4 linked regions of the Homo sapiens genome follow. The protein of the gene in region 3 purifies or fractionates together with the protein of the main gene of each other region. This does not show direct contact. Each region holds a gene or a part of one and is shown on either strand. Other genes may lie near its edges. The genes, in order: COL14A1, PKP1, FSTL1 and HEPHL1.

Region 1 (7,817 bases), on a different chromosome or scaffold from region 3:
GAAAGATAATACTTACACAAGTTGTCAAAACCTCTGACATACAGTAAAAGCAGTTCTAAGAGGAAAATATATAGCACTCAATGCCTACATCAAAAAGTCTGAAAAAGCACAAATTGGCAACCTAATGTCACACCTCAAGGAACTAGTGAAACAAGAACAAACCAAAGCCAAAGCTAGCAGAAGAAAAGAAATAACAAAAATCAGAGCAGAACTAAATGAAATTGAAACAAAAAGCAATAAAAAAGATCAATGAAACAAAAAATTGGTTCTTTGAAAAGATAAACAAAATTGATAGACCATTAGCTGGTTTAACCAAGAAAAAAGAGAGAAGGTTCAAATAGTCTCAATTAGAAATGAAAATAGAGACATTACAACCAACACCACAGAAATGCAAAAGATTATTCAAGACTATTATGAACACCTCTATACATAGAAACTACAAAATCTGAAGGAAATGGATAAATTCCTGGAAACAACAACCCCCCTAGATTAAATCAAGAATAAGCCCTGAGCAGACCAACAACAGGCAGTGAGATTGCATCAGTGATTTTAAAACAGTTTTCCAAAAAAAAAAAAAGGCCCAGGGCCAGATGGATTCACAGATGAATACTACCAGACATTCAAAGAAGAATTGGTACCAATTGTATGGAAACTATTAGGTTGGTGCAAACCACAACTACTTTTGCACCAACCTAATATTCTAAAAGATTAGAAGGGGAATTCTCACTAAATCTTTTTGTGAAGCCAGTATTACCTGATACAAAAACCAGTAGAGGACATAATGAAAAAGAAAATTACATGCCAACATCCCTTGTGAACATAGACGCAAAAATAATCAACAAAATACTAGCTAAACAAATCCAACAACACATCAAGAAGATAATACGCTGTGATCAGGTGGATGTCATCCCAGGGACACAGAGAGGGCTTAACATACACAAGTCAATAAATGTGATACATCACATAAACAGAATTAATAACAAAAACCATATGTTCATCTCATAGATGCAGAAAGCATTCAATAAAATCCAGCATCCCTTTATGATAAATACTTTCAACAAATTGGGAATAGAAAGGACATACCTCAAAATAATAAATGCTATATATAGCAACCTCACAGCCAAAATCATACTGAATGGAAAAAAGTTGATAGCATTCCTTCTGAGAACTGGAACAAGACAAAGATACTCATTTTCACCGCTTCTATTCAAGATAGTACTGGAAGTCCTAGCCAGAGCAATCAGGCAAGAGAAAATAATAAAGGGCATCCAAACTGGAAAAGAAGAAGTTAAACTATTACTGTGTGCCAATGATATGATCATATACCTAGAGAACTTAAAGACTTCTCCAAAAGACTCCTAGATTTGATAAACAAATTCAGTAAACTCTTAGGTTACAAATCAATGTATACAAATCAGTAGCACTGCTATACACCAACGATCAATTCTGAGATAAGAGATAAGGCCTGAGGATCAAATCAAGAACATAATCACTTTTACAATAGCTGCAAAAAAAATAGACATACCTAGGCATATATTATACTTAACTAAAGAGATGGAAATTCTCTTCAACAAGAATCACAAAACACTGCTAAGAGAAATCAGAGATGACACAAACAAATGGAAGCATCCCATGCTCATGGATTGAAATAATTCTTATGAAAATGATCATATTTCCCAAAGCAATCTACAGATTCAATGCAATTCCTATACAAATATCAACATCGTTTTTCACAGAATTAGAAAAAAAATCCTGAAATTCATATGGAACCCAAAAAGAGCCCAAATAGCCAAAGCACTCCTAAACAAAAAGAAAAAAATCTGGAGGCATCACATTACCTGACTTCAAAGTATACTACAAGACCATAGTTACTAAAACAGCATGATACTGATATAAAAATAAGCACATAAACTAATGGAACAGAAGAGAGAACCCAGAAATAAAGTCAAATACATACAACCAACTGATCTTGGACAAAACATTCAAAAACATAAATTGGGGAAATGACACCCTATTTAATAAATGGCACTGGGAAAACTGGATAGCCACATGTAGAATGAAACTGGATCCCTACCTCTCACCTTATACAAAAATCAACTCAAGATGGATCAAAGCCTTAAATCTAAGACCTGAAATGATAAAAATTCTAGGAGATAACCTGCGAAAAACTCTTCTGGACATTGACCTGGCAAGGAATTTATGACTAAGACTCCAAAAGCAAATTCAACAAAAACAAAAATAAATAAATGGTACCTAATTAAACTAAAAACCTTCTGAACAGCTAATCATCAGAGTAAACAGAAAACACAAGAATGGGAGAAAATATTTGCAAACTATGCATCTGACAAAGAACTAATATCCAGAATCTACAAGAAACACACACAAATCAGCAAGAAAAAAACAAATATCTCATCAAAAAATGGGAAAATGGCATGAATAAACATTTCTCAAAAGAAGATACACAAATGGCCCACAAACATATGGAAAAATGCTCAACATCACTAATCATCATGGAAATGCAGATTAAAACCACAATGAGATACCTCCTTGCCCCTGTAAGAATGGCCATTATTATAAGTCAAAAAACAATAGATGTCGGTGTGGATGTGGTGAAAAGGAAATATTTATACACTGCTGGTGGGCATGTAATTTAGTATAACCTCTATGGAAAACAGTGTGGAGATTTCTTAAAGAACTAAAAGTAGATTTACCTTTGGTTCCAGCAATCCCAGTACTGGCTATCTACCCAAAGGAAAAGAAGTCATTATGTCAAAAGACACCAGTAAACATATGTTTATTTTAGCACAATTCACAAATGCAAAGATATAGAACCAACTTCAGTGCCTGTCATCCAATGAGTAAAGACAATGTTATATATATATGTAAAAAAATATATTATATATATATTTTACACAAACACACACCATGGAATACTACTCAGCCATAAAAAAGAACAAAGTAATGTACTTTGCAGCAGCTTGAATGGAGGCCATTATTCTAAGTGAAGTAATTCAGGAATGGAAAATCAAATACCGTATGTTCTCACTTTTAAGCGAGAGCTAAGCTGTAGCTACACAAAGGAACACAGGGTGGTATAATGGACTTGGAGACTCAGAGTGGGGAGGGTGGAAGGTGGATGAAGGATAAAAAAACTACATACTAGATAGAATGTACACTACTTGGGTGATGGGTGCACTAAAATCTCAAACCTTGCCACTATACAATTCAACCATGTAACCAAATACCCTTGTACTCCAAAAGTATTGTAAATAAAAATAGGTTCCCCACCCTGTGTCCAAGTGTTCTCATTGTTCAATTCCCACCTATGAGTGAGAACATGCAGTGTCTGGTTTTCTGTCCTTGTGATAGTTTGCTCAGAATGCTGGTTTCCAGTTTCATCCATGTCCCTTCAAAGGACATGAACTCATCCTTTTTTATGGCTGCATGGTGGGGGTAAGGGGGAGGGATAGCATTAGGAGATATACCTAATGTAAATGACGAGTTAATGGGTGCAGCACACCAACATGGCACATGTATACATATGTAACAAACCTTCACATTGTGCACAGGTACCCTAGAACTTAAAGTATAATAATAAAAAAAAATAAAATAAAATTAGGTTATTAAAAAAGAGGAGAATAGGTAACATGCTGAGGCATGTCAGAAAGAAGCAAGTTCCCTTTGAATTGCAGGAGACTTTATAAAAATGGTGACATGTCCAGTAGACTGATAAACTGGCAGCAGCTTAAGGCCCATTTAAACAAAGCTCTCGAAAGATGCTATCTTTACTTATTAAATCATAATTCTGAAAAACAAATAAAAAACAATTAAAAATGATCCAAAAGTTCCACAGGAATAAAAGCCAGTTGTAAGAACTGAAGCCAGAAAGCTTTGTATAGTAGTGGTTAAGAACATACATTTTGACCTAGAATAGACCTAACTTCAACTGTTGACTCTGCCAGTGACCACTCTTGTGATGTGCAAGTAACTTGTCTTTTGCAGCTCAGTTTCCTCAAGTGTAAAGTGAGTAGAATAGTAGTAATTACTTCATAGGTTTGCTTCATAAGGAAATCTTTGTAAAGAGTCTAACTCTGATTTTCGGACATTTGTCAAGTTACCAAGCTTAGGCTGCCATTTTTAAACTGTCAAATGAGGTGGCAAAAATCCTACAAGCTTGAAAGATTTTTAAAAAACTACTTTCTGAAAGTACTGAGAGACACATGCACTCCTATGTTCATTGCAGCACTATTCACAGTAACAAACATGGAATGCCCATCAATGGTGGACTGCGTAAAGAAAATGTGGTGAACATACAGCAAGAAATACTACGCAGCCATAAAAAAGAACAAAATCATGTTCTTTGCAGCAACACGGGTGCCTCTGGAAGCCATTATCTTGTGCAAATTAACACAGAAACATGAAACCAAATACTGCATGCTCTCACTTAGAAGTGGGAGCTAAACATCGAGTACACACGGACGTAAAGACGGGAACAATAGACACTAGGGGCTACTAGTAGGGGGAGAATAGAAGGAGGCTGAAGGTTGAAAAACTGCCTATTGGGAACTATGCTCACTACCTGGGGGACAGAATCATTTGTACACCACCTCTCAGTGACATGCCGTTTACCCATGTAACAAACCTACACAATGTACCCTCTGAATCTAAAATAAAATTTTTAAAAAAGAAAAGATGTATTTAATTTGTCTTCAAATTTGGTATGTAACTTGTATGAAAGAAATTTTAATCCAAGCAGATTTTGTAATGAGATAATGAAGAAATTAAAACTACAGGTGACACTGTGCTGTTGCTCTCTGACCCAGTGGAAGTCTACATATGTGTGAAAATGAATACACCTTCTCTCTCCAGGTTGCAATGGTTCAGTTCACTGATGATCCCAGAACAGAATTTAAACTAAATGCTTACAAAACCAAAGAGACTCTTCTTGATGCAATTAAACACATTTCATACAAAGGAGGAAATACAAAAACAGGTATGACCAAAAGAAGCCCAGCTAAGGCTCAAAGTAATTCATTATTTGTAACTACTGAAATGACCTTTTATTTTAAGGCATAGTAATTTTTTAAAGATTTTTTTTTTCATTAATTTAAGAACTTTGTTCCCACCCTTTCTTCTCCAGAAAAACAAAAATGGGAGGGAGTGAAATCAAACTGTTGCCTTTCTTTGTTTCAGGAAAAGCAATTAAGTATGTTCGAGATACCTTGTTCACTGCAGAGTCAGGTACAAGAAGGGGCATCCCAAAGGTTATCGTGGTTATAACTGATGGAAGATCACAAGATGATGTGAACAAAATCTCCAGGGAGATGCAATTAGATGGTAAGATATATAAACAATAGTGGCTACCAAATATGATGTTAGAATTGTTATTTTCTAAATACAAATTTATAGGCTATATCAGCATTACTTAAATGTTTTAAAATATTTCTTCATATTAACTAGACAGTGTAATTTTTAAAATACTTTCTGGTATACAAATCTGTAATTGTACTGCTTTGTTAGAGAAAATAGGTTATTTTCTCTAACACTTTTGTTACATACAGGATGCCCTTTATATGGAACTCTAGCAATTAAGTACTGTAAGAAAAGGACCAGGGAAAGAATCTTATTACAGAAACTCCTCAGCCTCTTAATCATACCCAAATGTCCATCGATGACAGACTGGATAAAGAAAATGTGGCACATATAAGCCATGGAATACTATGCAGCCATAAAAAAGAATGAGTTCATGTCCTTTGCAGGGAAATGGATGAAGCTGGAAACCATCATCCTCAGCAAACTAACACAGGAACAGAAAACTAAACACCACATGTTCTCACTCATAAGTGGGAGCTGAACAATGAGAACACATGGACACAGGGAGGGGAACATCACACACGGGGGCCTGTCGGGGGTGGGGGGCAAGGGAGGGAGAGCATTAAGACAAATACCTAATGCATGCAGGGCTTAAAACCTAGATGACAGGTTGATAGGTGCAGTAAACCACCATGGCACACGTATACCTATGTAAAAAACCTGCATCTTCAGCACGTGTATCCCAGAATTTAAAGTAAAATTGTGTAAAAAAGAAAAAATATTGATTGAATGTATATATATATATATGGACCAGGGAAGGAACCTTATTACAGAAATTCCTCAGCCTCTTAATCTGTAAAATAGAGATTCTCACAGGACTGCTGTGAAGATTAAATTACATAAGTTATGGCAAATAGTAGTTCTATTTACTTGCCAAGCATTGAATGGTGGCCCACCTTAGGTTGCTAGGCCTATTAATGTCTCAGCTTCTACTTCTGAAAAAAAAAAAAAAAACTGAGATAAGCTCAGTGTCTCTGTTTCAAGTATATTTCATACCATAAATGTTAAAAGTAACTTTTAAGAATATGCAACCATAGAGATATTACTCAAATGCAAACTACTTCGTCTCAGGCACAATTTGGGGCCTTGGTCTTCTTGGGTTTCTTTAAAATGGAAAATCTCTTTAGGGGATGATGGAATCATTATCACATAATGAAATATATACATGCAGAACTCTGATGAACTGTAAAGAATGAATTATCCACCCCCATGGGCCTTCCTAAATAAACATATTTTAAACAGTTGGATGTGTCTTATATTACATTATTTGTGTTTTGTACAATTTAAAGTAATCGGAAATCTGTTCTCTGTCTGCCACAGGCTATAGCATTTTTGCAATTGGTGTGGCCGATGCAGATTACTCGGAGTTGGTTAGCATTGGCAGTAAGCCCAGCGCACGCCATGTCTTCTTTGTGGATGACTTTGACGCCTTTAAGAAAATCGAAGATGAGTTAATTACTTTTGTCTGCGAAACAGCATCAGCAAGTTAGTTCTTTGGAATTTGTACTTACTCATGTTGCTTAACAGCTGAAATATTTGACACTGGTTAAATAGTGAGTCCGATCTAGATCTGAGAAAAGAATATTGACTTCCAGTACTGCTTGTTATATAGACATTAAGTTTTGTGGCTTTGAGCATATGGAAATAAACCTCCCCTCCTCTGTTTAGAGTTTAGAATGATAAAAACCTTCCCTAATCAGATGACAGTCTATGTTTAAAAGCAACTGTGCTTAAACAGATGTAGTAAATAATTTTCAATGTATTAAGAATGTATTAAGATGTAAAATGTATTAAGAATTCTCATCTGGGCAACATATTACAAGGGAGATGTGCCCCAATACATGCTCTCAGGTGATAACCACTGATTTTAATGAACCCAGGAGAGAAGGAAGCTGTGGTCCTTTAGTTGTAATAAGGGACCTTAGCACATTTCAATCTTCATGAAACCACAGAAAACCATAGTCACATTTGATTTGTATTCTCTCCACAATCAACTTCTGGAAAGATTGTATTAGTTTCCTGTTCTCAGGACAGGGAAAGAGTATGTTTGTGAAATATCCGAATTAGAGTTTTATTTTGTTTGTTTGGTTTTCCAGCCTGTCCAGTGGTACACAAGGATGGCATTGATCTTGCAGGTATGCATTATCACAATCTTTTCAAACACAAAATATATTACAGGCCTCTCAATTGGGGATGGGGTTTCTGTTTTTGTTTTTAAATCCTTAATAGAAAAATATTAAAATTTAAAATTCTAAAGTGCCATATTCCTTATGTTTATTCTTTTTCTACTTTTTTTTTTTTTTTAGGATTTAAGATGATGGAAATGTTTGGTTTGGTTGAAAAAGATTTTTCATCAGTGGAAGGGGTTTCTATGGAGCCTGGTACCTTCAATGTGTTTCCATGTTACCAACTCCATAAAGATGCCCTGGTTTCCCAGCCAACCA
Region 2 (7,817 bases), on a different chromosome or scaffold from region 3:
TCAAGGCGTGAGGATTTAGGCTAGTATTATTTTTTAAACAGAGCAACAATCAAAATCAGATTAGAGAAGCTGTCAATTGTTCTTCCCTCTGACCACCTCTATCTTTTCTTTTTTTAAACAATTCTGACAAGAGCTCTTGGGCAGAGAGGACATGCCCATTGTTTCTCAAACACAGGAGCAGGGGGCTCGCACTGGTAAGAAGCCGCTGTGCTAGAAGGTTCTGTTTACTTGTCTGTTCTTCACCTCCAGCCCCACTAGCCCCTGAGTGCCTGCTGGATGGAGAGTGAGTCTTATTCCTGTTATTTCTCCCAGCATACAGCAGGTGCCCAATACATGCTTCCAAGTGAATGTGGACAGCATGATTTGAATGCAGCAATAGGCCAAGGTGCCCTTGAAAAGAGGGTCCTGCTGCCAGCCCTGAGCTCTGAGAGCCAAGCCAGCCATCACCGACCTGTGGGAACAGGAGGGGAGATGGCATAGGGGATCCGAAACAGCAGCCGGTTCGAAGCCCTGCCCCTCCTGTCTTTGGGCATGTATTACATGATGCCATTTTTCTTCTGCAGATTGGCATGCTCATTCCTGTCGAGCATGGCTCATGCCCTGACTCACTGAATCAAGACAAACTCCTTGGACCCTGATTCCCTATTCAGCAAAATGGACACAAGCCATGTGGCCTGTCTCACCTGTGCTTGTGACAACTCAATGCATGATGGATGTGAAGGCCCTTTGGGAACAGACGCACCAACTAGATCATGCCCAGGATGGTTGTCAAGCATAGCTGGAAGGAGGAGTGGAGACTGAATGGGGACGCTGGTTCCCAAAGGCATGTGTAGAAGGGAATTCCCACCGAGAGCGATGTCAGTGGATTCTCTGTGTGTCTTAGGCCGGGGGTGGACTCTGTGTTTTGGGGTAAGCTGAATGCTTTGGACCACCATTACACAGCGGGAGGAAGCTCACACCAGTCCTCCTTACCTGCCTCCTCGTCTCCCTTTGTCTATCTGGCAGTTGCCATTTGCCAAGCCCATCTTCAATGCAGTGCTGTTGGAAAGGAGCTCTGGATTGTCACATGGAGAACAAGGGCCACCCTTTGCTGTGACCTTCAGATTTCCCCAATCATCTTTGGACACCGTGCGTTCATGAGTCTCCCTATTGTCCCCTGCCATGCTGGAGGAAGAGCTGGGCTTCCTTCTGCCCCACGCTGCTCAACCAATCCCCAGGCTTCCCTGTCCTCCATCCCTGTCTTTCTCCCTTCTTTGCCTACTCCCTCTCCTCCCATGACAGAGATGCTTGAGTCTCCTCTGTCTTTAAACAGATCTCTTTTTACCCACTGTTTTGCTCCTTTTTCTGCAGGCTAAATTGCAGGGAGCAGCATCTCCTCTCAGCAACTCCCCATCCATCCCCATCCACTGCCTTGCCCACTGCAGCAGGCCCCATGGGGCTCCCCTTGCTTGGCCAGCAGTGCTCCTGGACGGCTCCAGAGACTTCCGAAGCACCGGATCCAGGGCCTTTTCCAGTGTCCATCCCCTGGTCCTCTAGGTAGCCCTGGGAACTGCTGCCCTGCCTTCCTTAGAGCTTTCTCTTCTTACCAGGTCTTCAGCCCCTTCTGGCACCCTGCACAGTTCCTCTTTTCCCTGGCCTTTCCTCCTTCTTGTCCCCAGCAGATGGTCTTCATATTTCTGCCCTGTCCTTCAAGACTTTTCCATACACATGCAACCCATGGTGGTCTTGCCTGTTCTCATGGCTTCGCCTGCCTGAACAAAGCTCCACTCTGTATGGTAGCTCTGGCCCCTCTGCCAGGGCCCACACCACCTCCAGCCTGGACTCCCATCCAAGTCTTCCAAACTCAACCTCTCCAAATTGGGACCCCTCTTACTCCCACCTAAAAGCCTTCTCAGGCTCTCCTCATCTGATGTGTCTTTATGAATATAACCATAGTCTCCAAGCTAAAAGCTCCAGCCTAATCAGCCCCACTGCTCCATTTCTTCCACCTCCTGTCCTTTATGTCCATGCTTATCACTGAGGAATGGGAAAGAAGAGGCCATGTGAAGATGTCATACAACAAGACCTTATACCCTAGAGGACTCTGTACCTGGCTAGCTGGGGAGGGGTGGAGGACAGAGAGGAGGCCAAGGTCACCACAGGACAAGGACAGCAGCCTCCAGGCTTCTCAGCCCACTCTGCCTTGCTCACAGGGTGAGCTTTGGTGCTGCTTTGATCATGAAACCCTCTATTCAAAACTTTGAATGGTTCCCCAGTGCCAAAGGTACAAGTCCAAGCTCTTCAGTTTGACATTAGAAGGGTTTTGTAACCTAGCCCACACCTACTTTTCTAGCTGGAGTGAACCCCATGCCCTCAAAAGACTTGTGTGCTTTTTGTCCACTCTGTTTTTCAGTTTGCTCCTAAAGGATCCCACCCCAGGCCTCTCACACATTTCCTTGATTTCCTCTGCCCTCCATGTTCTCAGCATCCCTCGCAGATCTCAGAGCCCAGAGACTTGATCAGAACGTTCATCACATTCATTTTCACGTAGACGCTGTCTTTGTCTCTCAGACTGTCCCGAAGGGCAGGGGCGTTTCTCTAGTGCCCAGCCCAGAGCCCAGCATATGCCAGGCCCTCTGCTCATGAGCAGGAAGAACCTCAGAAGAGGATGATGTCCTGGGCTCTTACCTGTCTGAGGACACCCTGCAGTTCCTTGCTGGACCACATGTCAGACAGGAGAAGCCGGGCAGCTTCTGCGGCCTTGGGTGAGGCACTGGGCAGGTGAGAAGTGCATTTGTGAGATGAGATTCCAGGAGGTGTGAGAAGGAGCACCCTCTTCCCTCCCACCCCCACTGCCAGGGCCTGGACACAGGGGAGGCCTCAGAGGAGGCCTCAGGTGTGCAAAAGAGAGGAGCCCCATTGGGGTGTGGTGAGCCTGGTCACCCTACCCAGTGGGCACAACCCCATGCCCCTGCCCACCTAGAGCACCCCAGGACTCTCCTCAGGGGCCATGAGGTGGCAGTGCTCTTCCACTCCAGTCCCCAGCCTTGTCCGGGGAAGAGAGAGCCCCACAGAGCAGGATAAAGTCCCTATTCAGTTGGACCTGCTGCCCCATGCCTCCTGCTGGCCCTCTGAGGACCTTGTGCCCCCGAGTCCCCCAGCCAGGAAGTGTGTTGCCTCTTCCCTCCATGCAGCCCTGGGGCCTGGATGCTGGACCCTTCTCTCCACGCACTCTCGGCTTCTGGAACTTCTCCTCCATTCAAGCCTCCCCCGTCCCTGGCTCCCCCTGCCCTTGGTGCTTCCCCTACTCCATGGAGAGCTGCGGGACTGCTTCCTGCTGTGCAGGGTGAGGAGGGGCTCTGATTGGGGTGCAGCCCGTGGGAGCAACCCCCCGCCCACCTGCTTCGGCACAGGTTGATGATGTTGTTGAGCATGCTGCTGGAGAAGTACTGCTTGGCCAGTTGTGGCTGCGAGGCCATCAGGTTCCTCACAGTGTAGCAGGCCGAGGACAAGATGTCTTCGGAGTTGCTGGTATTGCCAGTGTGGCTGGTGAGGAGCCTGGTCACCTCCGGGAACACCTGGTTCCCTGGGAGAGGAACGAGTTGGGGCACAGGGTCAGGATGACTGGGGAAGGAAGGGCTGAGGGGTTCCCTCTGGGGCCACACTCTTCGATAGCCTTCTGCCGGGCTCTGAGCCAGGTGGCCCTCAGGGCTTCCTGGCAGCTCCAACTCAGGGCTCAGAGACCCAGATAGGACTTTTGCAGATCTGCTCCCAGCCCTCAGGTGACAGGCTCCCTTCTCCTGTCTCCATACCTGTCTTTGGCCAGCTTCCTTTCTTGGAATGCTCATCCCAGGGAATGGCTTAAAGGATGACCTTCAAGCAGGCTTGAATTGTAGGGAGCCTGCCATGTCTTAGCTAGAGGGGGAGGAGAGAGAGGGACCTTACCCATCACTCTGTGCAGCAGAGGGTGGCGGGACATGTTGCTCAGGAGGGAGGCTCCGGACCGCACCACATCAGAGTTGCCAGATTGCAGGAGGCGGGCAATTTGTGGCAGGCCCTTTTCCTTCAGCCCAATCAACTGGCTCATGCCACTGGACATCTAAGAGAGAAGGAGTAGATGATGAGCTAGCCTGTGGCTTCCCAGGCACCATGGCAGGCAGAAAGGGGCAAGGAGCCCCAAAGGCAGACATCCCAGAACCCTTTCTCTTTCATATTGGAAGCACTAGCTCACATGTGGGCAACTACAGAAACCTAGGCTAACATGCACCTCCCCTTTCCCAGCCCTGATCCTGTCTCCTGGATCAGCCTGCAGCCCAGATGGGTGGAGAGAGGGAAGTCTCATTTCCCCTACTCATAGTGACCCAGAGTTAGCTTCCAGAGTAACCCAAGCGTCCAATGCTGCTCTCTCACCCCACTGTCTCAGCGCTGCCCCCATTACATCTCCCCACGCTATCTGCCCATGTGAAACTATATGGTCAAGGGTATTTGTCAATTAAACATCTGGCCATCTTCTTCCAACTTTCCTACCTCTTTAGAATCCAACACATATTTGTTGAGGGCTTGCCTGAGAAAAGAGGGCTAAGAAAGGGTCTGGGCCCACATGGAGAGAGAACTGGGGTCCCCTAGAGGTAGGCCAGTTCGCCCAGGCCTCTAAGCAACATAGCTATCCTGGGTGTAACAGGTCTAGGTGGGTTTGGCATTCTCAGAACTGCCCAGCCTCTCTCCTCACAGCCAGGGAAGTTCTCTGCCCTCGGTCTACTCTAGTGCTGCTGCTGCTCGGTTCCCTTTTCCTAAGTAAAGCTGAAGAACAGTTGGCCGCCTGGCCCATCTCAACTCTTCTTGATTGCAACAGGTTTCCTCTGGCTCTGCCCCATACCACTGTGCCCTCCAAGCTACATACATTTGGCCTCAACATCTGCACGGATTCTGTCACATCTTCTCTGGACCTGCTTGGACCCCAAACCCTCTTTTTCCACCTTTGTCAGTTCAACAAATGGGAAACTCCTTTTGCCAAACACCTTCTCCGCCGCATTCCCCGACCTCAAGCAGAGCCCAGGAGGCCAGCTGGGGACCGGGAGCCATGTGGCCAAGGGGATTGTGTGTGCATGGACAGAATCCAGCATCAGTGGGCCCACCCTCTCTGCATCCCCCAGCAGCTCCTAAAGGGCAGGAGTGTTTCCCCATTGCCCAGCCCAGAGCCCAGCATATGCCAGGCACACTCTGCTCATGGGAGGCTCCGAAGTCAGGGGACAGGCTGGGGGGAAAAGGAGGGAGCAGAGGCTGGACGGTGGCTGGAGGATGGGGCTGCTGCAGTAGAGAAGGTACAGTCCCACTCACCAGCCCCTTGCTGGCTGTCAGGTTCTGCAGGGCACCAGCACAGGCCTCCAGGGTAGCATCTTTCTTGCTCTTGCCCATGAGGTTCAGGTAGGTGCGGATGGCATCTGAATGGTACAACCAGCCGCTGCCCTTGGGGTTGGTCTCTTCCTCAGGCAGGGGGCAGTCATAGTTGTTGTTCTGAGGATAAAGAGCCGGTCAGGGGGGTCAATGGGGAGCCTTGTGAGAGGACACAACCCAGGCATTCTGTCCCCATCCCCCCAGCCTCAGGGTCGTGGTTCCAGATAGGGCAAGCTGAGGAAGCGCCTGCAGAGGCAGGGGGCCCAGGACAGCCCCGCTGCACCCCTTTCCTCTATGCACTGCAGCAGCTCCATGGGATGCAGGAATGGGCCATGGTCCCCCAGACTGTCCCAGGATGTGGGAGAAGAGAGCATCCTGGCATCTTGGGAGCTGTGTTCCAGGGCAGCCTTGGCCCAAACCTTCCAGATATGTGGGGCTGCTTTGGACTCTCCCATCATGATGCTTCCTCCTCTTCCAGACTCAGACAGTAGGTTTGACCCACCCTGGGCCAAAGAGGGTGGTCTGAGACCTGGATTCCACAGCTGGGCCCAGTGAAGGAGACCTGACAACCCATCCCTGGTAGGCTTCTGCTTCTGGGGAAACCTGGCAGGGCTCAGGAGATGGTGGGAACCAAGGCCAGAAAGAGTGAGAGTTCTGGCTTTCCTCAGATCCTCAAGGGCAAGGGAGAAGATGGGGGAGACTTGACCCACTATACAGGAAGAAAGACCAAGGCCTGCAAACAGAAGGCTGGAGTTTTTGACCTCTAAGGTGGTCTGAGCCCCTACAGTTCCAAGAACAGATTCCCCCTTGTGCAAGATGAATGGCCTCTACCCAGCTCCCAGAGTGCACCCTGAGCCCCAGGCCAAGGTGTCAGCATGGGCCTGTCCCTTAGGGCTGGCTTCAGGCTCCAGGAGGGCCCAGAGGAAAGGGCAGATGAGGCAGTGGCTCCTGGGGGGGTGCTTGATGGGGCAGGCCCCGCCCTGCTGATGCTGTGCTCACCATCATCTTGTCGCTCTTGTTGCTGAAGCAGCCAGTGGAGGACTTCTCGGTGTAGGCGTTGCGGGCGTTATACTCCAGCTGGCGGTAGCGGGTGGGCACCTCGGCGTCCAGGCGGTAGGAGAGGTTGTGCAGAACACACATGCAGTTTTCCACAGACTGGGGACCAAGGAGAGGCATGGGCCTGAGCCTCTGCCCGGCCCGACAGGCTCCTGGCCTACCACCTACCCTAGCTAATAAGAGAGCAGAGGCACCTGGGCTGCATCGGGAAAGATGAGCGCAGGCACCACCACACTATCAGCCTGGGAAGTCTTCCAGGGCCACCTCTGGGACCTGAGTTTGAATCTGTCATTTCCTGGCTGCATGAACTTGACTGGCCTCACTTCTCTGGGCCTCAGCTATCTCAAATGTAAAATGAGACTACAATTGTCCATTTCACTAGGCTATTTGGAAGATGATACAGAGAAAGCACTTATCACAGGGCCTAGTGTGTGGTAGGACTGCTATGGACAACATGCCAATGGGCAGACTGGGATATTGAAGAATGTGTCTTTTTTTTTTTCCAGAACAAACTCCTCCAGAAGAAGCCCCATGCCTCTAGATTCCAAAGCCATCTAGTGCCCCCATCATTCTTTCTTCCTGGGGCCAGTCCTTAGCTGTCAATGTCAGCGGTGCTAAGTCCACACAAAACACAGCAACACCTGGAGCCCAGGGCTTCATCATGGCAGCTGGGCTCAGATCTTTGTCAATCTCCTTTGGCAAACCTCCAAAGGACTAGGGTTTGGGGGCAGCAGATTTACCCTCCTAATGATGTTTGGCCCTTGCTGGGGTCTAAGGGAATCTGACTTCCAGGGCTTGGGGTTACACAGGTGTTGGAGATATTGCACACAGAGCAGAAAAGCATCTTGCCCTTTGGAAGCAGGCTGAGCAGCCCAGTGACAAGGCTCTCCTCTGTGGCCCTGCTGTTGCTTCCAGTGGAGGGAGCAGGAGATAAAATCCCTCCTTACGGCAACTGTGCTGAGAACCCAGGTGCTGTGATGTCAGCCCGTTCCCTGGCGATCTGGAGCCTGCTGGGCCTCACTATCTCCTGAGCCACTGTCCTGCCATGGTGGGAACATCTCAGCCTTCTGTTTATCTGCCCTCCACAACTTTTTTTCTTTCTGTTTGTCTGTGCTGTGTGTCCAGAAGTCCAGAGAGGGCAGCAAGATGACTGCCAATGGCTTTTCTGGGAGGCAGTGGGAAGATAGCAGTGGCAGAAGGAGCCTCATCTCAGGGGGGACACTAAGCCCTGGGGGCACCAGTATGGATTCCTCTGGGCTGTGGGGCAGGGCTCGGGGTCACAGGACAGGCCTCAGCACCACCAATGAAGCACAGCCAGCAGATGCTCGCTGGGAGCTTCCTCTGTGCCAGGCCCTCTTCGTGTTTTGCTTATTAACTAATCAAGCCTT
Region 3 (7,817 bases):
AAACTTGGATCCTGACACTGGAGATTTCTCTGAGACAATGACTCTCAAGTCATTCATATACCATCAAAATGTCCTGGAGAACATTTGAAAAGATAGCTGTCTAGTTCCACCTTCAGAGATTCTGATTTAATTGATGTGAGGTGAGATCTGGACACCAGTATTTTTTTACAAGTCTTTCTAGTTGGTTCTAATGTGCAGCCAGGGTTGACAACCATTTCATCTAGCAATGTTTCTGAAACTTGCACAGTGATAAACAAAAACAAAAACTACACAGGTTCCCAAGCTGCTCTTTTGCAAATTCTGATTTACTAGGTTTAGGATGAAATCTCTAGGCTTATCAAGTAGAATGCTGACCATTAGGAAACACTTCTAGGACATATCTTCCAAACATTGCTATCAACCTTCCCTTCACAGCAGTTTCCCTTGGCTCTGCCTCCTCCTGGCTTCAAATTTTGATGCCCCTTCTTGCTTGTCCCATTTTGATTTGTGATCTAAGATCAGACTGCTAACTCTCAGGTATTAACCTGAAAATGCCCCAGAATGCTGGCTCCACAAACTCCTCTTAGATCCACGGCCTACACATCCATACGTGCTCAGGCCCCTGGGGCACCACCATCTAACATGGGTTGCTCCATGTTATACCCACATAGAGTTCTGGACTTGGTCATCCAGGGAGGATGAGCAGCCCATAGCTGAGTGGCTGTGGAAATGGGCAACATCCCATGAAGCTGATCATTTGAATTTTGTCTGATGCATGTGATAGAGATTATTATCCAAATGACCATGCTTATTCTATAAGCCAACTGCATACCAACTGCCTGCACCTTAGAAATGGAGGGCTACCTTTACAAAGCCAGAACAGCAGCAGTTAGAAGCGGAGAGGTACTGAAGGGAGTTTAGGGAAGACAAGTATAGGATGCTTCATGGTTGAGGCAGGCTAGGCCACTGACTGTTTTGAGATGTGTTTTGTTGGTTTCAGTAGCAACTCTGTGTTTGGTCTGGAGATCCTGGCTTGGTCTTGACTTCTAGGAACTTGTAGGAATTTCTAGTCTCTAAACAGCCTCTTCCTGTTCCTTCACCTGTCCCTGTAGTTACATTGGTTTGCTGTCGTTCCACACTGAAAACAGACTTGGTCCTGGGCAGCGGTAGACCAGTGATACCTTAGATAGTACTGGGCCATTTATACTGTTGCTGTTCTCTAGGATCCTTGTCTAGAAGAGCCTCATCCTGGGTTTCTGACCTCTGTCTCCTAGTTACCATTTAACCTGATCTTCCTGAACATTATCTTAGGTTCCAGCCAGCTCTTCCTTGACACAGTTAACTTCTTAAAATAAACTTTTTTTTTTTTTTTAAGACAAGGTCTTGCTCTGTTGTCCAGGCTAGAATGCAGTGGCGTGACTATGGCTCATGGCAGCCTCAACCTCCCAGGCTCAGGTGATCCTCCCACTTCAGCCTCCCAAGTAGCTGGGACTACAGGCACGTGCCATCACGCCTGCCTAATTTTCACATTTTTGTAGGGACATGGTCTCGCTATGTTGGCAAGGCTGGTCTTGAACTCCTGGGCTTCCCACTTTGGCCTCCCCAAGTGTTGGGATTATAGGCATAAGCCACTGCGCCTGGCTGATATAACTTTAGGTTCACCCTAGCTGGTGAAACTTTTCGGCCTGGTTCCAAATGACCTTAAGGCAATTCTCCGTTGCAGACCTGGCTTCAACACCCTTCTCTGTCTTGCCTCCACTCTGAATATCCCTGGTTCTTTGCTAGGGCTCGGCTTTAAGAGTCCCTCTTGATCTTTGGCATCATTGTAGCCCAGGACCCAGATGGGACTCCAGTGGTTCCAACATACCCTGTAGCCTCACACTGCCCCACAAACTCTCAGATTTCTCTGTCTCCCCAGACCACCCTGCACATATCTCAACTAGCTCAACTTTCTCTTTTTAAAAAAGATTACCCATCTCTGTTAGTTGAAAGAGGGTCTACAAACATATTTTCTTTTTCTGCTGGGTATGGCAAGGAGAAGTCATTTTGTCTTCCAACCACTAGTCTTTTACCATTTCCTAAGGTGTTATAAGGATCAATGGGTTAATATGTAAAGTGCTTAGAAGAGAGCCTGGCACATGGTTTTTGCTGAGTATTTGCTTTCACTGTTACTATTCCATTATTATTTTTGATTATTATTAAATAATAATTATTGTTTTTATTTTAATGTTTTAATTATTAAATAATTACTATTTTTAATTATTATTCCATTATTACTACTTTCACTGTTACTATTTCCATAATGTTACTATTCCATTATCATTTACTTTTGCCCAGGGTCTTGGTCCTCTCTTATTCCAAGCCTCTGGAGTGATTTTCAAACTGAATGCCTATGGGATAAATGTTCTGCCCTCAAAGCTCCCCACTTGGGGCTCCAACCTTACAGGTGTGGGTCTGCCTGGGTTCCTTGCTCCCAGCCACCGCCCTCTTCTCCATCATCCCCACCCCAACTTCTCTCATGCTGATTTCATGAAGCTCTCTCCTTGCTGTTTTTTCTTTCTGCTTGAAGCACAGCTCACCGTCACAGGTCATGGCTGTACAGACCCAATTTCCACAGGCACAGACACAGCGGTTACAGTCCACCTCGGTCTCAGCTCCATCTGCATACGTTTCATCCTCCAGGGCACACTCTGTTGGGCCAGAAATACGGGGCAACAGTTTAGCTGTGAGGGTGGAACAGGGCATCTTTGCTACAGTCTGTGCACCTTACCCTTTTTTCCCAGACAAGACCTGCCTGTCCCTCAGAAGCACTATATCTGAGCAAACACTACCATCAACCTAAAGAATGTGGGGCCCTAACTTCACCATGGGGAGAATGGGCTGGGGCCCAGTTTAGAATCATGGAAGGGGATTTTCTCAGCTAGCTCTGGAGAGTTCCACCAATCCTCTCTATCTTGGCTCCTACAAAATGCCTCCATTCACTACAGCTCTCTATTTCTTAGGTTAGGCATACTCTTCTCAGGAGGGTTGAAAGATGGGTTGAGGCACTTGAGAAACTCTTGGAAGCTGAGTTTCCAATCAGCATTTTCATCAGACAGTTCAATGAGAGCATCAACACAGAGTCCCCTGAAACAAAACACAGGAGAAATGTGTTAGCAAGACCTCAGCTTCGCTCAGAAGAAAGGAAGTAAGCATCAGGACCACATACACCCAGGGCCTCCACAGGAGGCCAAGAAGATGACTGCTAACTAAAACAGCCTCTCTCTACACTGACCCAACACAACTATTATCCATCCTGACCAATGCAGGCATCTAACCTTTAGTTTGTTATATGAATGTCAGATCACCCAGGCTGTCCAAATGTTCCCCCCCTTAAGATGACTAAAGTTTCGTGAATGGTTTTGTCTAATGTTTTCACTGCCTGCATACCTTCCACTAGCAATTGCTTTTCCCCATGGTATATACACGTCAAGTCAACCAAACTAGGAAAATCAAAACAGAAGAGATATGACAGATGACATGAAAGGAATATAGGATTTGAAAGAATATGAAGTTCAAGCAAGAATCACCATTATCATCCTTCTAGAAAGAGATTTTCAGAAAAGCTTTTAGAACTCAGCTCCATCAGCTTGCAGTGAGCCGAGATCCCGCCACTGCACTCCAGCCTGGGCGACAGAGCGAGACTCCGTCTCAAAAAAAAAAAAAAAAAAAAAAAACAAAAACAAAACAAAACAAAAACAAAAACAAAAAAAAACAAAAAACAAAACAAACAAAAAAAAACTCAGCTCCATCACTTCTTTCTTGGGCTGTATTTGAGCCCTGGCTCAATCACTTACTACTCAAATGGACTTGAGTTAGTTATTCAACTTTTCTGAGCCTGTCTTCCCATCCGTAAAAGGAGGACAAGAAGCCCTCCTTCACTGGGATATCATGAGGCTCAAACGTTGAAATTATAAAACATATAATTTCAGATTATCAAAATATGAAGGATTTACAGAACCTATACTTTAAGGTCATAGACTATTATTAAAGAAGAATCCTTCTAGAAACTGTGCAATGCACTTCTTTTGAAAAAAAGACATGCTTTTCCTATTTTTAATTCTTACCGATGTGCTGAAACCACATCAAAAGTTTCTTAGCGATTAGTTTTTATTAATATTGATTCTGGAATAATGCCATAAAAGTAGACGGGCATATATCTGTAACAGTTAGGGCAATTGACATGAAATAGCACTAATTATCTAAAAATCAGAACAAAGCTATTTTAGACCTATAGTTAAATAATACATTACTGTAATTCCTTCAGAAAATTAATCAGTAAAACATCACCCACAACATTCAGAAATAACTTGCTCTGACGTGCCCTTGGCAATTTATTTTAAAATTATATTCTTCTAGTCCTTGCAAGTTCTGACCAAAAACAATAACTATTTGATTAGATATCAGTGGTACTCAATATATTAATTCATACTTTCATAGAATAGAACAGGACAGAATTCCCATTTTGCTTTTTACGTGACATTCTCTCACTGGTGGCTCTTTTGCAGGTGGGAAAGGGTTTAAGTCCCCTCTCTCAGTTAGTCTTCCCTTGTGGATCATTCTCTGACCTCTCGGTTCCTCTCACCTAAGCAACTTGTTGTTCTCCTGGTCTGGATACGTTGTAATATTGATGGCAGTTTCATTCTGTTCCACAAACTTCAGGAATTCACTGGAGTCCAGGCGAGAATCACCATTATCAAAGTTCTAGAAAGGGCATGACAAGATCGTTCAGGGATGTTTTGCAGAACCCCTGTTCCATCATTACTCCACTCAGCTGACCTGCCTCTGATTCATCTTGTTCTTGATACATTCCAACCCTGCCCTGACCTCAGAGGGCCTTGGCAACAAATGCTCTAATCCCTGGGACATGCAGAGAAGGTACCTGTGCCCACAATGAGAGAGGAAAAGTGCCTGGGCAGAGGAGGCAACCTGAACTGAGGCCTCTGGGGTCCCTAAGCATGCTGTGTGGCCCCATCTCTGACACTGCCCTGTAGACACTTTTGACTATACCTTTGGGTTCAGACCAACCTGCACATCATGTTCTCAAGCCCTGATGAACATGTAACAAGAGTTTAAAGTTGCACGCTGTGAATCAGAATCTCTGTAGCAGGTCCCAGAATATGTTTCTAATGAGCTGCTCAGGAACAGCAGCAATGCAGATGACCCTCTGAGCTCACTTTGGAATTATAGGATTCCAAATCTTGTTGCTTGATTCCAGCCTCCTTGTCCTGTTCTCAGTGCTTAACTTTCACTTTGGTGCCCGTAACTGATCACATCAGTGAGAACTCAGGCAAAGGCCTCAAAGCAATAAGCTACAGACAGGGGTCATCATGCAAAGTTCCCGCTCCTCTGCCCTGTGGGCCCCACTGCAGATGTGTGCACAGGTCCTCAGATCATCCAGCTCAGGCTGCCCTCATGACCCAGCTGGCATCCCACAAGCACAAAGTGAGGAGTGCAGTAAGCTCACACACTGTTCTCTATGGCAAGATGCTAAACTGAGACCTCAGCCATCTGGGACCATTCAAGACACCCAGGCACTAGCTGCAGGAGGAGGGTGTCAAATCAAGACTGATCAAATTCCAAGTTGCATATGGCTGCTCTCCTAACAAATTTCAATAACATTTTCCCCCTTCCTCCCAAATCCTTTCCCTAGGCTCCCTCATGCTGCTGCCCTGGGAAAGGATCAGCTTCCCCATGTTACTTTCAAGATGGCTCCCCAGATGGTGCAAGGGATTCTGGAAGAAACATCTATCCAAATTTCTAGATAGAAGGGGAAGATGTAGCTAACAACTCTCCTCTCCTGCTTGCCATGTGTCACAGGTGTTCCACTCTAATGTTGTATAATGAAGGTGTGCATGAAACAACTATTAGGCCTTTGCTTAGTACGTACTTATCATTCTTGTCCTAATTCCTAGGAACAGGTCTCTGATGTCCTTTATTCACTATACAATTTTCCCTGACGAAACTTCCCTGTTTACCTTGTGAAGTCTTGATTAATTAATGGAAAATAATTAAATAAGTTTGGCTGGGGGCCATTGTTAGTAGCACAGGGCTTTCTTGAGTTCAAATATTGCATGTGCTGGGTAAATGACAGCAACCCTCAAAGACTCCAGTGTCATCAGGGCCTGATGATGGAATGAGTGTAGGGAGGGGAAACGTCCAGCACTAGCTACAGACCCAGTGCCACATGGCCCAAGTGGGCACCATGAACCTGGCAACCACAGTCCAGGCAGCTCTCAAAAGGCAGTGCTGTGTACACACACTTCAGTAGGACTAGAATAAGGCCTGCAGCTGGGGGAAGGTCCAGCCCATGTGCTTTCTCAACTCATGAGGGTCCAGTTGGGCCTCCCCAGGCCAGAGTTGTATGTAGAATCCACAGGAACACAGAATTCTGGTGCCTGCCCCAGAAATAGCCTGGAATGCCTGGGGGGTCTGCCTGTGAGGTCCTAATCATGGACCATGAACCAACCTAATTTATTGAGCCTCTCTTCAGCCAGTCAGTTACAAAGACATAATATCTCTCTGTGCCTCTTTCCCCAGCTCTATACAGGTTGATTATCCCTTATCTGAAATGCTTGGGACCAGAAGTGTTTCAGATTTCAGATTTTGGAAAGTTTAAATATGTATAATGAGATATCTTGGGGATGGGATCCAAATGTAAACATGAAATTCATCCCTGTTTCCTATATACCTTACACATATAGCCTGAAGGTAATTTTATACAATAGTTTAAATCATTTTGTGCATGAAACAAAGTTTTGACTGTGTTTTGAATGCTACCCATCACATGAATTCAGGTGTGAAATTTTCCACTTATGGCATCATGTTGGTGCTCAAAAAGTTTCAGATTTCAGCATTTGAGGTAACAAAACTTTTCCTCTATCTAACTGTAGGGTTGTGGAAAGGCAGAAAAGATGTATGTCATGAGATCTGTTCTTGGGGCTTATCAATGTAAGTTTGGAGACTCTTCAGAGGAGATGGGCTGAGACAGGCACTTGCTTGTGCACAGCAGCTGGGGCTGTGTGGGCTGTGGTGCCAGGGTAAAGGAGATAAGAAGGCTGGCTCAAGTGTCAGCCCTGGCCATCAGGAGCCACAGGGATTGAGATCACACCCAGATGAAATTAGGAATGGATTAGATTCCAAATTCCAAGAGCATGGAAGGCTCTTTCTACCTGGGTCTTTCTTTCTTCATTCTGTTACGCTTTCACCTAAGAAACAGTGACTACATCACTGGTTATGGTGAAAGTCAGATTTTGGCCTTATTCAAATTCTAATTCAATTTGGTTTTTGAACAATTTTGATGTAAGAAATGCCAGCTGGGCTGGGGAGCATTTCATTGGTTCATAACAGTCTCTTTGAGATATCAGACCTCTCACCAACAGGCAGCTGCTGACCTAGGAGGAGGCAGTCTCCCTTTGAAGACAGCAGCATGTAAGACTCTGATAATCATCAAAAAGTAGAAAATGAAACCTGTTTTCTCCTGTTAGACACTGCCAGAGTGTCTGGGAAGAGGGGATTTTGTGTCTGTCAGTCATGATCAAGCTTTCTTAGATGCCTGGTTGTGAGAATGTCCTAGAGAAGAGCTACTTTCCCAAAGGGCCTTATAGCTTTCAGAAGGGAGCCTGTAAAAGTGAGTTACTGCTGGAGGAGATGGAGATGTGTTGAGGGGAATGTGGCATAGGTTCTTGGGAATCAAATCTAATAGCAGGTGTCAGTGATGCCTGAGGCAGAGTGCCATCAAAGGGCCACTAAAAAATGGTTACAACGTCCTAAGTGGCCCCTGGGAAGGAGTGTCCTGG
Region 4 (7,817 bases), on a different chromosome or scaffold from region 3:
CAGTGCCCATTCTTCTATGCAAATTGTTACTGCAGTCTCATCTGTTCATTCCTCCCATGCCACAGGTGCTTTGCATCAACCCCTCCATCTAAAATTCCTCTCTTCCCTATTCAGTTAAATAAATTCTATCACTCCTTAAGATTTTGCTTAAGTCTCACTTCCTCTATAATGTGTTCCCTGGCCAGCTTAGCTCTCTCTGAGCATCCAGATAACTCACTACCAGGACAACTCACCTCACTTTTATTTGTAACTTGCAGTTACTTCTCTACTCTTGTGAACCCAGCTTCTTCCTCTGCATTTTATTGCTTTAGATATCCTTGCATCCCTCATGTCATCTTGCACTTTGTGCTTTCATATATCACATTAAACATTGATTGAATATAGTTTAATCTTTCCTATTTCAGAAGGCACTTCAGAATTCTAGAAGGCTCCTAAGACAATTTTGAATGCTAATTCTCATTATTCTGTTTATGGAGAAATACTAGTCAATAGAGAATGTTGATATCAGAGTCTTTCACATATGGTTCACACAAATTCTTTAGACAGGGTTCAAGTGCATCCGTTTGGTAGAATAATGAGTGAAAGTATGAATGAATGAATGAATGAATGAATAAAATGTACAATTAAAGAAACAAATGATGTTTTATTGATCACAAAGAGAATTTTTAAAACATTCCCTTAAATATAAAAAAGGATTCTTGATATCACACTGTACATTTTTTAGTATCTTCACAGACAACTTTGCATATGATTATATACTAACAAGTCACAGGAGTCCAGATCCACCTAATAAATTGCTAGATTAATTTTTTAAATAGTATATTCTATGGGAGCGCAGAGAGAACATAATTCATTTATATCAAGAGTCAAAGGTTTCACTTCAGAGGTGACATTAGAGTAAGGCTTTGAAAGAAAAATGGCATTTTACTGAATAGAAAGGAAAAGAATATTTGTAGGACATAAAGGGGACACAACTTAAATCAGGATATCCTTGAACCAAAAAGGGTAACCCTCTTAGGCCAGGTCATCTCCATCTCCTGTCATTCCCTCTTCAAGACTGTCTGCTCCATATGTGTAAAGGCCTTACTCTATTCTTTGTCAGCTTAGTATTTCTAATGGCACTTTGCACTATAGTTTGCACATAGTGCCTACTCAAGAAATGTTTGATCAATGAGTGAATGATCTAGTGTTTTGATTCAGCCGTCAAGTCACAAAACAAAAAATATTCTACCAGTTCTCAGCAGTGCTTTTGCAGTATTAAGAACACCTTAAGCAGCTACATTATGCCATCTATGCAGTATAAGCTCATCAGAGCAGTGGTTGGAATACAAATTAGATCACAGAGAAAGCCTAACACATGCTTCTCTGACGAGAGGCTTAGAAACACCAACAAAGGGTGCTTACCTGCCAGAGGCGTTTAGAGGAAGACCACTGAATTTGTTATAGCCTTGAGGAGCATAATCCCAAAGAATTTTTTCAGCTGCTATAAAGTAGCGCCTCTGTTGACCCTTCATCTTGGGGTAGAAAATATCACTTTTGCAGTTATCAACATTGTATTGCCCCAGCATACCAGCTGCAGAACAGAGGAAAACCACGAGCTGAGGCATAAATGATCACAAAAGGAATCATATAGGAAAAGACTGATAGATTTGGCTCTTGAACATTTAGGCTTCTGTACAGAAAATTGGACCATAAAGAAAGTTTTTTTAAAAAGGATAAATGGCAACAGGAGGGATATTTGTGACACATATGACAAAAGATTAATACGTAAATCACTTTTACAGATAAAGATGAAAACAAGTAAATCTCCAATAGAAAATGAGCAAGGAACAGAAATAGTTTATTCACAAAATAAATAATATTGGCCAATAAACAAATGAAAAAGAGGTTCAACCTTAACAGTACTCAAATAGTACTCAAACCTTAACAGTTTTCAAATGATACTATTGTTCATTGATCAGATTAGTAAAGATTAGAAAGACTAATAATTCTCAGTGTTGGTAGATGAATGGGGAAAGAGCCATACTCATACACTTCGTGTAGAAGAATAACAATTTCCAAAAGAGAATGTGGCAATGTATGTCCATAGCTTTTTTAAAAAAATCATACTCTTTGACCCAGAAATTCTAAATCTAGGAGTTTTTCTAAGAAAATGTTCAGACAAAAGTGCAAACATCTATAAATAATAGTCATCAGTGCTGTTTATAATAGCAAAAAAATTGGTGGGAAACATAAGCATTAAGCAATAGAGTATTGATTAAGCAAGATGTAATCTCCTTATAATGGACACTGGAAGTATTAACCATGATGAAGTAAGCTCTATATTCACCGACATGAAAATGTGTTTCTGATATATTTGTAAATGAGAAAAATTAGCTACAGTGCAGCATTAATAGACTGATTTCATTTTTTAAAATACATATATATTTACATATTAAGAAATAGAAAATAGGGAAGATATTCACCAAAATGTGAATATAAAATATTTCTATTATGGAACTACTGATTTTAAAACCAATTTATAGGGGCCAGATCCAGTGGCTCATGCCTATAATCCCAGCACTTTGAAAGGCTAAGGTGGGAGGATTGCTTGGGCCCAGGAGTTTGAGACCAGCCTGGGCAACATAGCAAGACCCTGTCTCTATTTGTTAAAAAACCTCCAATTATATGTATTTTCTAATTTTTTTACAATAACTTTTTTCTGAAGGCATGGACAATTTAGAAATACTGTATTTCAGGGAACGTATAAATACTAGCTTATGTCCACAACTATCGGGCTAATTTAGCGATCTTACTAGTCTCAAATGGCAGCTAATATCTTGATTTTAAATCTACAGTTTCTTCCCAGATTTAACAGCATAAGACTCTTTGAGAATAGAAACCTTCTCTTGTTAATCTTTGTTTTCCCAGAAGAGCATCTAGTACATATTAACTGATTAATTTTTCAGTTGAATGTAATTGGGATACTGCAGTTGACTAATGCTATGACTCACTGTGGAAGGTGGACAGGAACAAGAATGTGTTACAAAAGCAGCCCTGAGCAGCTGGATCTTTGCACCTATTAGTGACTATGGGAAGTTAGTATCCAAATATCAGACATTATTTCTTCTGTGTCTATTCCATTAACATATTTTTTCTGTCTTGGTTTCATCATCTTAGGGCAGACGTTTAGGTGTTAGACCTCTAACACTGTCAAATGCTTCTTAACTAGCATCCAGTGGTCAGAATTCCTCCATCAAGTCCTTCTTGCATGCATACATTTATCTTCTTAAATAACTGCACCGATTATGTCACTAGTGTGCCAAAAGAGCTAAGGATCACACAGCCCCACCTCCTTAGCTTTGCTAAGGGGCCTGATGAGCCTCCCAGGCTCTTCTGTCATCACTTCTCTGTAAGGAACATTATGGTCCAGCTAAGAAAGGACATAGTGTATGATGTCTGAAGAAACCAGGACCAGGTCATTCAACAGGCATTTAAGCCAACAAATGTTTATCATGCACCTATCATAGGACATGAAGGAAGCTATAGGTCAATGGATTTTGTCTCAATTTGAGGAAGAACATTCCAATAGAGCAGTCCAGAGATGAGATGAGCTGCTATAACTACTCACAAGAGATGTTCAAAACGAAATTAAATAATTCGAGGGGGGATTGGTCCTTATTATCCAGAAAGTCCTTTCCAGTGCTAAAACCTTATTACTCTACTTACAGTTGCTCAAAAAGAACATGTGTTTTTCCCAGTTCATGCTGCTTCCTCAAAAGTCTTTCTTTCCTTCTTCATCTATTCAGTTCCTACTCATATTTCAAGGCTCATGTTAGGAGCCAGCTCCTCAGGAAGCCCCTCTGATTGCTCCAGAGTAGTGACTGCAACACCCAAAGAGCATTTATCTCATTCTGCCTTAAATCGTATTCATTTTGTGAATGTCTAACTATGTCTAACAACTATACTACAGGTTCCTCGAAGGTCTCATCAATTTTTAATCACTTCCCCACTTTTTTCATACAGAAGTGGTCAATAAATATCTGTTGATAGAATATCAAAGAGATGAGCGTTATATTTTCCTGTATATTTATTACCTAATTAAATATAGTACATACAAGGCTCTATCTAACAGTAGGTACTGGATGAGCACTAGTGACTGTGTGGTTTGATTGTACCATTCTAAACATATCAACTCTGGTCTTTATCCTTTTTACCTTGTAGGTGGTCGCTGACCTGGCAGGTTATCATCCACTTCCCAGGATTCTCGGCTATCATTTCTGTTGTAAGGAAGGTGGCTGGGAACAGGTTGACGACATCAGTCCGATGCCCTCTGCTGATGAAGGTGTTACCATAGAAATAGATAGAATGGATGTCTATTTCATTCCCCATTCCAAATAGGTGCCAGGACACAGATTCTCCAACACACATATCAGGCTCCGGGAAGTTTCCGAAGAGGTATCCATTGAGGGCTGGAAACAGAAACACGCTAGTGGAAGAGACTCCCCTGCAGAGGCGACTGGGACCAGAAATGTTGGTAATACGGGCTTAAGCATGGCTGGAAAACCAGTGCAGACCATTGGTTGTAAGGTTTTGGTGCAGAAAAACCTGGCTCTTAGAAATATATATTGTCCAAAAGAGAAATGAAATGTTTTTATTGGCCTTTTTCCAGAGAAAACACTCAATAAAAGTGAAGATCAGCATACACTGAGAACAGCCTCGGAGCTGCTGTGGGAACGCAATATGAGGTCAGGAGAAAACAGAGTGCTGCTCATATTTACAGGAGGCTCAGTCACCTTCTGTCATAATCCTTCACTGGCATATCTGCTGTCTTCACCAGATTCTGTGCTCCTTGGAACTAGAAACCCTGTCTTGTTCATCTTAACAGTTATCAGGACCTAGCAGAAAAACTGGCACATAGTATCTACTTAATGAAGTGACAAAAGCATGTAGTAAGATGGAAAGAAAAGGAATTGATTAAAAGGAATTTATGAGAACTGTTTTGTTTGTTTGTTTGTTTACTTTAAAAAGCCAAGAGAAAAACAGTTTTTACTACATGTTGCTGGAGCAGAATCTTATTAAGTTTATGGCGTAAATCCAGGACCGAATACTTTAAAACCATCTAAATGGCAGCTGGGAGTTGACCAAGTTCAGAAAAGAACTTGATTCAGGGCTTTAAAAAGTCACAATATCCCTTCTTAAGTTCGAACTGAGTTAAAAGCAATTGTTGCTGAAATGCCTGATGACTTAGGCAGCACAATTAATTCTAAATTATTTTAGTAAATTTAAATAAATTGATCAATAAAACTTGTACATATTAATTATCTTCCATAGTCTAGATTTTTTTAATTAAATTTTTTCCTTTACTTGATTAGGTCTCTTTTTCCAGTCTCTCTCTCTTTTTTTTCTTTTGAGATGGAGTCTCGCTCTGTCACACCCAGGCTGAAGTGCAGTGGCACAATCTCAGCTCACTGCAACCTCTGTCTCCTGGGTTCAAAAGATTCTTGTGCCTCAGCCTCCCCAGTAGCTGAGATTACAGGTGCCCACCACCATGACCAGCTAATTTTTGTATTTTTAGTAGAGACAGGTTTTGCCATGTTGGCCAGGCTGGTCTTGAACTCCTGGCCTCAAGTGATCCTCCCACCTTGGCCTCCCAAAGTGCTGGGATTACAGGCGTGTGCCACAATACCCCACCCTTTTCCAGTCTTGAAGGATTGTTTGCAAACACACATCTACTTCAGCATACAGGCTAGGGTTTTTTGTTTTTGTTTTTTGAGACAGGGTCTTGCTCTGTCACCCAGGCTGGGGTGCAGTGGCACTTAGTTCACTGCAGCCTCAAACTCCCGGGCTAATGCAATCCTCTGACCTCAGCATCACAAGTAGGTGGGACCACAGGCATGTGCCACTATGCCCAGCTGATTTTTTTTGTTGTTTGTTTGAATTTTTTGTAGATAACGGATCTACCTATGTTGCCCAGGCTGGTTTTGAACTTCTGGCCTCAAGCAATCCTCCCACACCTGCTTCTCAAAGTGCTGGGATTATAGGCATGAGCCATTGTGCCTGGACAGGCTTCTTTTTATGATACATGTAATCTATGTTTGCTTATGTAATTCATTTCATTTTGTTGGACATTTTCACTTCAAAAGAATAAATACAGAGTAAGAGGAATTATTTGGGCAGGTGAGTCTTAAGTAATCACAATTAGTAGTTTTCTGCAATATTTGAGATCATCACTCCCATTTTGTAAAGGATATGCATTACAACTGGTCACAGCAATGATTTGAATTTATGTCTTCATTGACTCCATCCTTCATTGTTTTCTCTGCCTCCCTGCCTTCCCCTTTCCTTCTCTCCCTTACTTCCTTTCCTCCTAAAATATTTTCCAAGAATCACTACACATAAGGTTGCCAAAATACCACTAGAAGGAAAAAAGAAGGCATGCAATACAATGGAAATAATCAATGTACTGACAATCATGCCTTGATGTGCCTAGGAATCAAACACAGCCAAATTTACATTTATTTGCTATGGGACTTCTCTCAGGAAACTCTCTGGCATTAATTATCACTTTGACCTTAGGCAAGTCATTGATAGTCTCTTGACCTCAGTTTCTCTTCTGTAAAATGGAGACGTTAGATGATCTTCAGCTCCTTCTATTCCTCTTATGATTTTATGACTATATTGAGGATACCTTGGTTAGAACAATTCTGAGAGACAGAGAAGCAATAGAAGGAGAAGATATGTCAATGAATAAGGTGGGATATGTAGGTTGACTATTTCCTTTATGTTCACTAGAACTCTCTAAGAAAATCCTAAAATGCTACATTAAGCTACTGCTTTGCAAAACAGGCATGAGTAAGTGCCCCATCTCAACTAATGAAGTAACTATAGAAGTTCACTATTTTGAACAAATATGGAGTCTGATGTATAGTGCATGCTCAGTAAATTTTGTTGATGTAAAGAATGCCTGGGAAATATAATGAATTCACAAGTGCTTATTTAAACCCCATGCATAACTCAGTTCTTAAAATTTATCAGCGGCTCAGAAAATGGTTACTGGATGAAGCAAAATGTTGCAAAACACAGGATTATTATAGAACGATGATTTCATTCTCCTTTCTCCTTCCAGTCAGTCTAAGCCCACCCATGCTCTGGGCTCACCTCAGGCACCGATTCTTTTCCAATTACAATATAACATCGATCCCTCCATTTTCCCAAAGCCCTGTGGCTTTGTCCACACTGCATGCCCAATTTAGCATGCATCCACTGCTCTGTCCCCCTCAGATTGTTTCAGGTTCAAACATGTGTCATGTATTGTATCACTTTCTAACCATGGTCATCCCTGAGTTATAAATCATGCCAAACTCAGATCAACATTTCTGTGTATTTTTTATCCCTTGTAGTACCTTATAGTATAAAAGGCCTGGTATACGTTTGGGAACATGGGAGGTACTCACCATGCATTTTGTTACTCCTCTGGAAAACAGCATCTTTCTTGTCAACTGAATCAGGGTTGGTGCAGAAATGTTTGATATTTTCATTGAGGTACCAGCTTTGATTCTCATCCACAAGAGTAAACATTATAACAAACTCTCGATCCACATCATTCCGTGTCCCTGAATATCTATTCAGGATACCTGTCAGGCACATTCAAAAGAGTAGAGAGAAAGAACTAAATCAAGATGAGCTTTGCTTCCTTCCAATAGTGTCAGGCAAGTGTGAAGTTTGGTGAAGACCTATACCTACAAGGATAACCCACCATATAAAATCAGCAAAAGGCTTTAATGGAGATGACAGAGCCATAGAAGAGAAAAGTCATAAAACAGAAATCTTCATAA

The links.
Region 1: the proteins of FSTL1 (region 3) and COL14A1 purify together in Homo sapiens (affinity purification with mass spectrometry; one large-scale study listed by BioGRID and IntAct). This does not show direct contact.
Region 2: the proteins of FSTL1 (region 3) and PKP1 purify together in Homo sapiens (affinity purification with mass spectrometry; one large-scale study listed by BioGRID and IntAct). This does not show direct contact.
Region 4: the proteins of FSTL1 (region 3) and HEPHL1 purify together in Homo sapiens (affinity purification with mass spectrometry; one large-scale study listed by BioGRID and IntAct). This does not show direct contact.

Annotation. Positions count from the first base shown.
Region 1 is NC_000008.11:120,273,242-120,281,058, forward strand, and holds part of COL14A1 (collagen alpha-1(XIV) chain isoform 1 precursor), read left to right. Parts: intron 1-4,243; coding exon of another isoform or gene 4,244-4,258; exon of another isoform or gene 4,259-4,691; intron 4,692-4,869; coding exon 4,870-4,993; intron 4,994-5,193; coding exon 5,194-5,337; intron 5,338-6,693; coding exon 6,694-6,858; intron 6,859-7,469; coding exon 7,470-7,508; intron 7,509-7,679; coding exon 7,680-7,817. UniProt on the Homo sapiens protein: Plays an adhesive role by integrating collagen bundles. It is probably associated with the surface of interstitial collagen fibrils via COL1.
Region 2 is NC_000001.11:201,320,689-201,328,505, reverse strand, and holds part of PKP1 (plakophilin-1), read right to left. Parts: intron 6,529-7,817; coding exon 6,373-6,528; intron 5,494-6,372; coding exon 5,317-5,493; intron 4,079-5,316; coding exon 3,925-4,078; intron 3,566-3,924; coding exon 3,379-3,565; intron 2,753-3,378; coding exon 2,668-2,752; intron 1-2,667. UniProt on the Homo sapiens protein: A component of desmosome cell-cell junctions which are required for positive regulation of cellular adhesion.
Region 3 is NC_000003.12:120,400,250-120,408,066, forward strand, and holds part of FSTL1 (follistatin-related protein 1 precursor), read right to left. Parts: intron 4,723-7,817; coding exon 4,604-4,722; intron 3,106-4,603; coding exon 2,993-3,105; intron 2,670-2,992; coding exon 2,559-2,669; intron 1-2,558.
Region 4 is NC_000011.10:94,064,130-94,071,946, reverse strand, and holds part of HEPHL1 (ferroxidase HEPHL1 precursor), read right to left. Parts: intron 7,617-7,817; coding exon 7,437-7,616; intron 4,977-7,436; exon of another isoform or gene 4,652-4,976; intron 4,513-4,651; exon of another isoform or gene 4,452-4,512; coding exon 4,197-4,451; intron 1,574-4,196; coding exon 1,405-1,573; intron 1-1,404. UniProt on the Homo sapiens protein: Is a copper-binding glycoprotein with ferroxidase activity. It oxidizes Fe(2+) to Fe(3+) without releasing radical oxygen species. May be involved in the regulation of intracellular iron content.